2 linked regions of the Homo sapiens genome follow. Each later gene encodes a partner of the first gene's protein in a complex. Each region holds a gene or a part of one and is shown in the gene's direction. Other genes may lie near its edges. The genes, in order: YWHAH and NEDD4L.

Region 1 (3,900 bases):
CCCTCCTCCCATCTCTCACTGGGACCCCATCCTTATGGGGGGTGGAGTGGATGATTCATTACTATCTAGCATGCTCTTTAAATATATTCACTAGGGGAAAGATTAGCCTGGTTTGTTAACCTCGATTCCAACAGCAAAAGTGACTCTTCAAAGCATGGTGAAGCCTGGGGTAGTGGCCTCCTCCTAGACCCACATTCAAATCCTGTTTCATGGGCCCCCAGAAGTGTGATCGTTTCAGCATCATAGCAGGAAGAGGAAGGCCTGGGAGGCAGGAAACCTGGTATGGAGACCCCAGCTCTGCTCACTCGCTGTGCAAACTAGGGCCAGCCCCTCCTTTCCCTCAGACCTCAGTTTCCCGTTATTCAGGATAAGGGGTTAGACAGGGGTGATTCTAAGGGTCCTGCCAGCTCTGACATTTCAGCATGTGGATATCTATTCTAAAGTCCTTGAAACAGTTAAGTCCAATTCTCCAGATGGAAAACAGGTCCAGAAAAGGCCTGGTCTCCAGTTCCCTCCCTTCTCCCTTCGAACATGTCTTACTCTCTAGAGCAAGATTCCAGGCCTGAAATATGGCTTCCCAATTACCTAAGGATGAAGCCTCAAATCTTTGGCCTGGCATTTAAAAGACTCCGTAATCTTGTTTTACCCAACCTCACTTCCCATTCTTAGGCCTCTCTTCTCACCATCTCCCAGGTCACTGCCAAGCCTTTGCCAATGCTGTACCCCAGGCCTTAATCTTTTTCCTGACTCTCCTTCAAGATCCAGCTTATCCCTGTGGGCTGAGCATGCAGTAGATGCTCAATAAAATTCTCAGCGAGCCCAAGGCCCCCTCTCCTGCACTGCCCTTGGCGTGTTGAAATCAAGTGGGGGCCTTGTTTTAATCATCATTTTCCTAGCTTGTCGGGCAGCCCAGTCCAGGGCCTGGCACAAGGGACCCTCAGCATCCAATACCAGCCAGGATTGGGAGGGGCTCAGTGACCAGCCAGTTGGGCCACCCCAGCTCTTTGCCACAAGAGAAAGTTCAGCCTGGGTTTGGACTCAGATCCTGGCCCCACCACTTACAGGCTGCGTAACCCTGAGCAAGTCACTAACCTCGCTTTTCCTCAGGTTCCACGTTTTAAATATGGGGAGACCAGCTGTGCCCACTGTGGGCTGGGTAGTGAGGATTAAAGAGGAGGATGCTTGTACGGGACTAGCACTGGGCTGGCTCCTAATGTGTCCTGAATATTACTTGTCCCGCCCTGGCCACCCAGTCCCCTCCTCTGGTGGAAGGCACAGCCTGCCCAAGGCTACGTCTCAGGTTGGGTTCGATTGTGTGTGTCTGTGTAGCGGGGCTGTCCCCGAGGGTCGGACTCGATCCTGCCCGGACCAGTACAAGGTGTGGCCCAGCAGAACGCATGGACAGGCAGGGCTCGGGGCGGGCGGGACGGCTGGGGCGGGGCTGGGCGGACCCGCCCCTCGGGGCACGCGGTCTCCCGGCTTCTCCGCCAGTATGTTTGCTTGCTTTTGGGGCCCTTCTCAAGCCAGATCTCTAACGTGGATGGAGTGGCGCGTTTCAGGGTGGGGCTATGACAATGCACTGCCTGTGCAGCCGCCATCACCGCGCCCCCTCCACCGGCTCCGCAGTCTCCTGCCCGGCTTTCCCTTCTCCACCTCCATCTCTGCGGCGGTAAAATGCAGCACTCGCAGAGCGCCTGCGCGGCTTTCAGGCCGGGCGGCGGCGGCGGCGGTGGCTATTTATAGTAGGTGACGTCACCTTGAAATAGACCGTTAGGGCCGGCCCGCCCTTCCCCCCTCCCACTCCCGCCGCTCCCCGCCGCCCGGCCTGGCCACTCTCACTGCGCAGGCGTCGTCCCGTCCTCCCATCCCCCAGCGCGGCCGCGTCTCCTCCCTCGGCGTTGTCCGCGGCGCGAGCCACAGCGCGCGGGGCGAGCCAGCGAGAGGGCGCGAGCGGCGGCGCTGCCTGCAGCCTGCAGCCTGCAGCCTCCGGCCGGCCGGCGAGCCAGTGCGCGTGCGCGGCGGCGGCCTCCGCAGCGACCGGGGAGCGGACTGACCGGCGGGAGGGCTAGCGAGCCAGCGGTGTGAGGCGCGAGGCGAGGCCGAGCCGCGAGCGACATGGGGGACCGGGAGCAGCTGCTGCAGCGGGCGCGGCTGGCCGAGCAGGCGGAGCGCTACGACGACATGGCCTCCGCTATGAAGGCGGTGAGCGCGCCGGGAGCCCGGGCGGCTGGCCGGGGGGGGCCTGGCGTTGGGGAGGGACGGGGATGGCCGCGGGCGCGTTCCCCTCCCGGCCATGGGCGACCCGGCGACCCGGCTGGGCGTGGCCGCCCGCCCGCCCTTAGCCCGCGCTTCCCGCTCCCGCTGGGCGCCCCGCCACTTCCTGAGGCTGGGCCCAGGGTGGGGGATCCGGGAGGGTGCAGTTCGGGATCGCGAAGGCAGCCCCGGAAGGGGGGCGGGCCGGTCGGGGTCGCCACATCTTAGTTCGGAACCCGGCCGGGGGCAGAGGGTGCCCTAGGGGACGCGAAGGAGCCGCATTTCTCCTAGAGCGTTTCACCGGACCCGGGGGCTCCCCCTCTCGTCTTCCTCCGTTCCCCAACTTGGAATAAAGAATCACCTAGTAAGTGGCGCCCTGTCTCAGCTGGTTTTCTCTGCCACGACCTGAAGTCTGCAATTCCGATCTGTTTTGCTCTGCTCGTTCGAATTGTTCTGGTTCCATCTTCCCACGCCTGGGGGTCTGGCTTTGTGTGCGAAGACCCCTTTCCTGCAGTCTAGGCGTGGACGGGGGCGGGAGAGTGGGCGGAGGGTGTGGGGCCCCACTCCACAGCCCCAGGTTTGCTGCTGCGCTGTCTGCTTGGAGATTAAAATGAAACGTGACTTCTAGGTGAGACGAATCTGTGTGTCTTTGCATTCCTGAGACCCTCATAAATCGATTCTGCAGCTTCTCCGGTGGATGAGTCGTGCCCAGCCACACCCTAGCAAAATACCGTGGGTCACACACCACCTGCATTTCTGAGTTCCGGTTACCATCTCACTCTCTCTCCACGTTATTTTACGTTTTCTGTAAATGAATATTTCCTCTCCCTGCGTCAAGGTCACACAGTGGTAGAACAACTGCGACCACCAACCTATGTTCAGTGTACAACCTCCTGAGACCTGGGAGGATCCCCTTGAACTCCGCCTTAGACCTATACATTCAGAAATTCGGGCGGTGAGACTCAGACATCTGCATTGTAACCAGCTCTCACAGGCGATTTTTAGCTGGCTTAAGTCTGAGAATTACTGCCCATGATTATAGTAAATGTATCCTTTGCTGGCCTTTTGGAGGGAGTTCCGAAAAAAAACTGCCAATACAAAGGCTCCCTAAAATCTTAAGTCATTTGGAAAGCTCATTTGAAGGCTTTTGATGTTAATATCAGATGAAATATGTAGTTGGGGCCAATATTTAGGATTGTTCAGGTAAGAAAGGTGCTTGAAGAGTTGCCTTTCCTCTGGTGTCCTTGTTACACACATAACTGGGTGTGTTTGGAAACCAGCAACACCGTTGCCCGTATGTTGATTTGTTGGTGATCTTGACTTGAGCACTATTAGCATGCTGTTGTGGTGAGGCAGGTTTTCTTCCAGACCGGGGGACGGTCTAGGTCTGGAGGCTGAACTTTATGTAATTCAGGGGGTCCTTTAAAAGAAAATCTAAAATATAGTTTTGCATATTTTACAAAAATGGGACTGACGAATGCATTTCCTTGGAAGGGACCCTGAACCTTAATTTTCTGTGGGATAAAGCTGCCTCTGTCCACAGCAGGTCACACTTAAGCCCCTCCTCCCCAGTAACTGAGTGGTGCTGGGATTATGCAGGCTGAGGCCTCTCCACACATTTTCATGAAGTGGTTGCTCACCCTCTAA
Region 2 (3,900 bases), on another chromosome or scaffold:
TTTGTTTTTGTTTTTTTTGAGACGGAGTCTCGCTCTGTGGTCCAGGCTGGAGTGCAGTGGCGCAGTCTCGGCTCACTGCAACCTCCGCCTCCCAGGTTCAAGGGATCCTCATGCCTCAGCCTCCCCGAGTAGCTGGGATTACAGGCGCCCGCCACCACGCCTGGGTAATTTTTGTATTTTTAGTAGAGATGGAGTTTCACCACATTGGCCAGCTGGTCTTGAACTACCGATCTTATGATCCGCCCGCCTCAGCCTCCCAAAGTGCTGGGATTACAGGTTTGAGCCACCGTGCCCGGTCTAAAGACTCGAGGTTTGAAAGGGTTGAAAAACCTCAGTATTGAAAGAATGGACAGAAATCTGACTTTTAAATAGTCCTCCATAAATAGTTCTCATTGGGGGTTTTGTGGCCTGTAAGTACTGTGGACTTGACGGCTCAAGACTTCTAGAGAAGGCTTCTGAGTAGGATGTTGACTCCATGGGGCTAAGTCGTCAAAGGAAACCCATTCTACGGCACAGGTTTTAAGCCAGTCATGCTGCAGGAAGGCAAAGGAGAGCTTAAGGTAGCATGGGTGGGCTCTTTTGAAAACGAACTAGCAGGGCGAACAGCAGATATTTAGTTATGTAGCTGGCAACGAGGAATATGATTCCTTCGGGTCACGCGAGTTCTCTCTGAACTTCCTTGAATGAAAATCCTAAATGCATCCTGGTAATACCCAAGTAGGCACTTTGACGTTTCCTTTTCAAAGGCAAATGGAATGTTCTGCGTCTGTTTTCTTTTTGAACTCCCAACTGCACTTAACATCTAAATTTAAGGAAAGGCTTCCGAAAAAGTCGACTGACGAATTTCTTTCACTTATTTAAAGTAGTCTCTTGCAGTCCTATAAATCGGAAGGATTAAATGAACTGCTTGCTAGAGAAACGGTAGCTGGGTGGTGGGAAGAATCCTACGGTGGCTAATAAGACGTCTCGATCATTTGCATATGCAAAGGATAACCTTAAGCTTGAGTTTGATATTTCACGTTGCGGCTCACAAATGAACTGCTTTTTATTCAAAGAACCATGCTGTCTGTTTTCGCGTGGGTGGGTGTGTAACCGGGGCGGGCGCTATGTTGGTTTTGTTCCCTGCAAGGTTGACACAGGCAATGGCGACTTGCGGCCACACTGGGGCAGCCTCTCCTCGGCTGGCAGCCGGGCCGGGCGGCTCGCTCCCGGGAGCTGACAATGTAGCCAAGTCCTGCTCGTCGGGGCCGCAAAGAATTTAAAGGGGTCTAGAAACATCCATCTTTTCCCCTTTTCACAGTTAACAGCGAGCTCAGGGCTCTCGGTAAAAAGACCACCGGGAGGAAGAAACGCTCAGGGCGTTTTTGTTATTGTTCGCAAAATCCTCTATCGCCCCCAAACGTCCAGCCCGCCCCCTCCCTAAAGCGGAGGGAAACCGGGAGAGGAGGGAGGGTCGGCGGCGCCGGCCAAGCGCGCCAGTACACGCCCCTGCGGATCCGCCCCGCGGCCGGGTGACCCCCGCCGCGCCGCGCTGGAGGCCCCGGGCCGGGGTGGGCGTGGGGCTGAACTCCGCCACCCCCGCAGCCCGCGGCCCGCTCGCCAGCCCGGCCTGTGATTGGCTTGGGGGGCGCGTGTGCCCGCCCCGGCGAACGGGGAGGGTACCCTCGCGGCGCCGGTGGGAGGAGGCGGAGGAGGGGGCGGAGAGAGCGGGGGCCCGGACGGCGCTAGCGAGGAGGCGGGCGAGCCGGGTCCCCGGGAGCGCAGAGGAGGCTCGGAGGGGGGCGGAGAGCGGCGGGGCGGGAGGGAGGCGCGGGTCGCGGGGAGGGAAAGCCCGGCCGGGTCTGCGCCGCCGCCGCGCGCAGTGAGAGGCGCCGGGGCTGCCGCCCGGTGCTCGGCGCGCTCTCGGGAGCCGCCCGCCCGCTGGTCCCGCAGCCTTCCGGGAGGAAGCGGTGCCGGCAGCGTCCAGGGCGCGCTCTCGGGCACCCTCACCTGCCGGCGCCCGGCCGCTTACCCGGCAGGGCGTGCGCAGGGTAGGGTGCGGGACCGGGGGGACCTGGAGGCAGAGGGGAGAACCGGCCGTCCGCGCCGCAGCACAGCCGCTGGGAGCGCCTCAGACCCCGCGCGGGGCGCCGGCTCCATGGCGACCGGGCTCGGGGAGCCGGTCTATGGACTTTCCGAAGACGAGGTGAGTGGCACCCCCTTCCTGCTCGGGACTCCCCGGGGAGTTCCTATCCCGCGCCGGCAGGGGGAGGGGAAAGGGGCCGTCCCCGGGGTGCTCGTGCCCAGCGTCTGCAGGGGAGCCCCAAAGCGGGAGCGCCCCGGAGCGGGATCCAGGGGAGCTTGGGTCCTTCCGCACCCCCCACCCTCCGCAAGCCGAGCTCATTGTTTGTAAATAAAGCGGCGCGACGCCCTTGGAGCTGGGGGTTCACTCCGCAGCTCCTCGCTTTCGGGAGGAGAGGGAGGGGGCATGCGTGCCTCTCTTCCCTCTTCCTCTCCAAGCAGCGTCTCCCGGGGCTGTTGGGCAACTTTCCGCCTCTCGCCCCTGCAGCCCGGGAGTCCATGATGCATGTCACGTCTGGGTCGCGCGGCTGGAGACCCGGGACTGCGGAGAAGCCGGATCGTTTCCCCCTGGAACTTTCTCTCTCATGATTGTGTGGATCAGCAGGCGCTCAGAAGCCTGTGCGTGCTTATCCCGGCGGGAATGGGGGACACGCTGCGTGTGTCCCTCCCCTCGTTTTGCAAAGTCTACGGCCAGGATTGTGGATTTCGGAGCCTCGGTGGGGGAGGTGTTCAAGGCTGGTGGCAGGTGCTCCTGGAAACTTGGGGAGGAAGCTTGCAGCCCTGCCATTTTTTCCTCCCGAGGATTCAAAGCCCGGCACCTCCAGGGTGGGTGGGGAGAGGAAAGCTTAATTGATCTCTTTTATTAATAAAGCGACTGAATAAGCCACGCCTCCCAGGCGGTCGGTTTCACTGGAAAGGGCTTTGTTTTTACCTTCATTCTCTCTTCCGTGTCTCCCACTCCCCCCTTTTGAAACAATCCTGCTAAATCACTGCCTAGTCCTCTCTCGACCAGCCACGCTCGGCTCTTATTGGTATGTTGCTCTGCCAAAAAGGGGGGTGGGACGCTTGTCGCGGGCGCGGCGTGACAGGCAGGCTGGATGGAGCAGGTAGGAGTGGTTTGCCATCTGGCGGGGTGCGCGCTCAGGTCTGGCTCCCCTTTCGAGAGGTGAATTTTACAACCCAAGAAGCATTACTCAGCAGGGAGGTATTTCCTATCCTGGTTGTGCATTTCATGAAAAGTTGATGCCTGGAAATTCAGGCGTTCTCGATTTCTCTTTCTTCCCCTCCCTCCTTTCTTTTCAGAGGTTCCCTCTTTCTCTCGTGTTGGGGGTGGGGTTGGAAGAAAGGCTATTATCTGAGACAGGCTCGCGTTATGGCTCCGCTTTCTGCGGCTCTCCTACCCTGGCATGGTGTGTGTGTGTGCCTGTGTGCTACGTAAGTGTGGAATGAAAGGTATTTTGGGGTGGGAAGGGTGTTTAGGGTATGAATTTTTTTCTTAGCGGTGCTAGGCAAAGCTTGATGTATTTATTTGATCAAAGAATGATCACAGTGCAAATAATGTGTGATTTGTGTGTTTATTTTGCCTCGCTGTGCTTTTGTAAAATAATTTCCCGTTTTGTGTAACTACCTGGGGATAGGTGACAGTAGCATTGTTTCATTGACCCGGGGGGCTTCTCCTCTCCCTCCTGGCTTCTCTCTTTGAGGAGCTTTCCCTTGCATCCTCTACTTCTCCATTTAATTAGTGGCAGTAGAGGGCAGGCCCTGAGTTGCAGAGACGCAGACATTCCTAAACAAAGGGGCTGCTTGGGTTGACGTATTGTGGGGGGTGGGGGTGAGGAC

Evidence for each region.
Region 2: the proteins of YWHAH (region 1) and NEDD4L are in contact, whole or in part, in a crystal structure (PDB 7NMZ), measured with the Homo sapiens proteins. Residues at the interface, in NP_003396.1 of Homo sapiens: Arg12 (codon at 2,149), Glu15 (codon at 2,158), Asn39, Asn43, Leu44, Ser46, Val47, Lys50, Arg57, Lys125, Arg132, Tyr133, Gly174, Leu177, Asn178, Val181, Tyr184, Glu185, Leu221, Leu225, Asp228, Asn229, Leu232, Trp233; in NP_001138439.1 of Homo sapiens: Pro444, Arg445, Ser446, Leu447, Ser448, Ser449, Pro450, Thr451, Val452, Thr453, Leu454, Ser455.

Annotation. Positions count from the first base shown.
Region 1 is NC_000022.11:31,942,619-31,946,518, forward strand, and holds the start of YWHAH (14-3-3 protein eta), read left to right. Parts: upstream 1-1,916; 5' UTR 1,917-2,115; coding exon 2,116-2,202; intron 2,203-2,215; exon of another isoform or gene 2,216-2,748; intron 2,749-2,881; exon of another isoform or gene 2,882-3,060; intron 3,061-3,900. UniProt on the Homo sapiens protein: Adapter protein implicated in the regulation of a large spectrum of both general and specialized signaling pathways. Binds to a large number of partners, usually by recognition of a phosphoserine or phosphothreonine motif.
Region 2 is NC_000018.10:58,042,524-58,046,423, forward strand, and holds the start of NEDD4L (E3 ubiquitin-protein ligase NEDD4-like), read left to right. Parts: upstream 1-1,702; 5' UTR 1,703-2,137; coding exon 2,138-2,185; intron 2,186-3,133; exon of another isoform or gene 3,134-3,265; intron 3,266-3,410; exon of another isoform or gene 3,411-3,495; intron 3,496-3,900. UniProt on the Homo sapiens protein: E3 ubiquitin-protein ligase that mediates the polyubiquitination of lysine and cysteine residues on target proteins and is thereby implicated in the regulation of various signaling pathways including autophagy, innate immunity or DNA repair.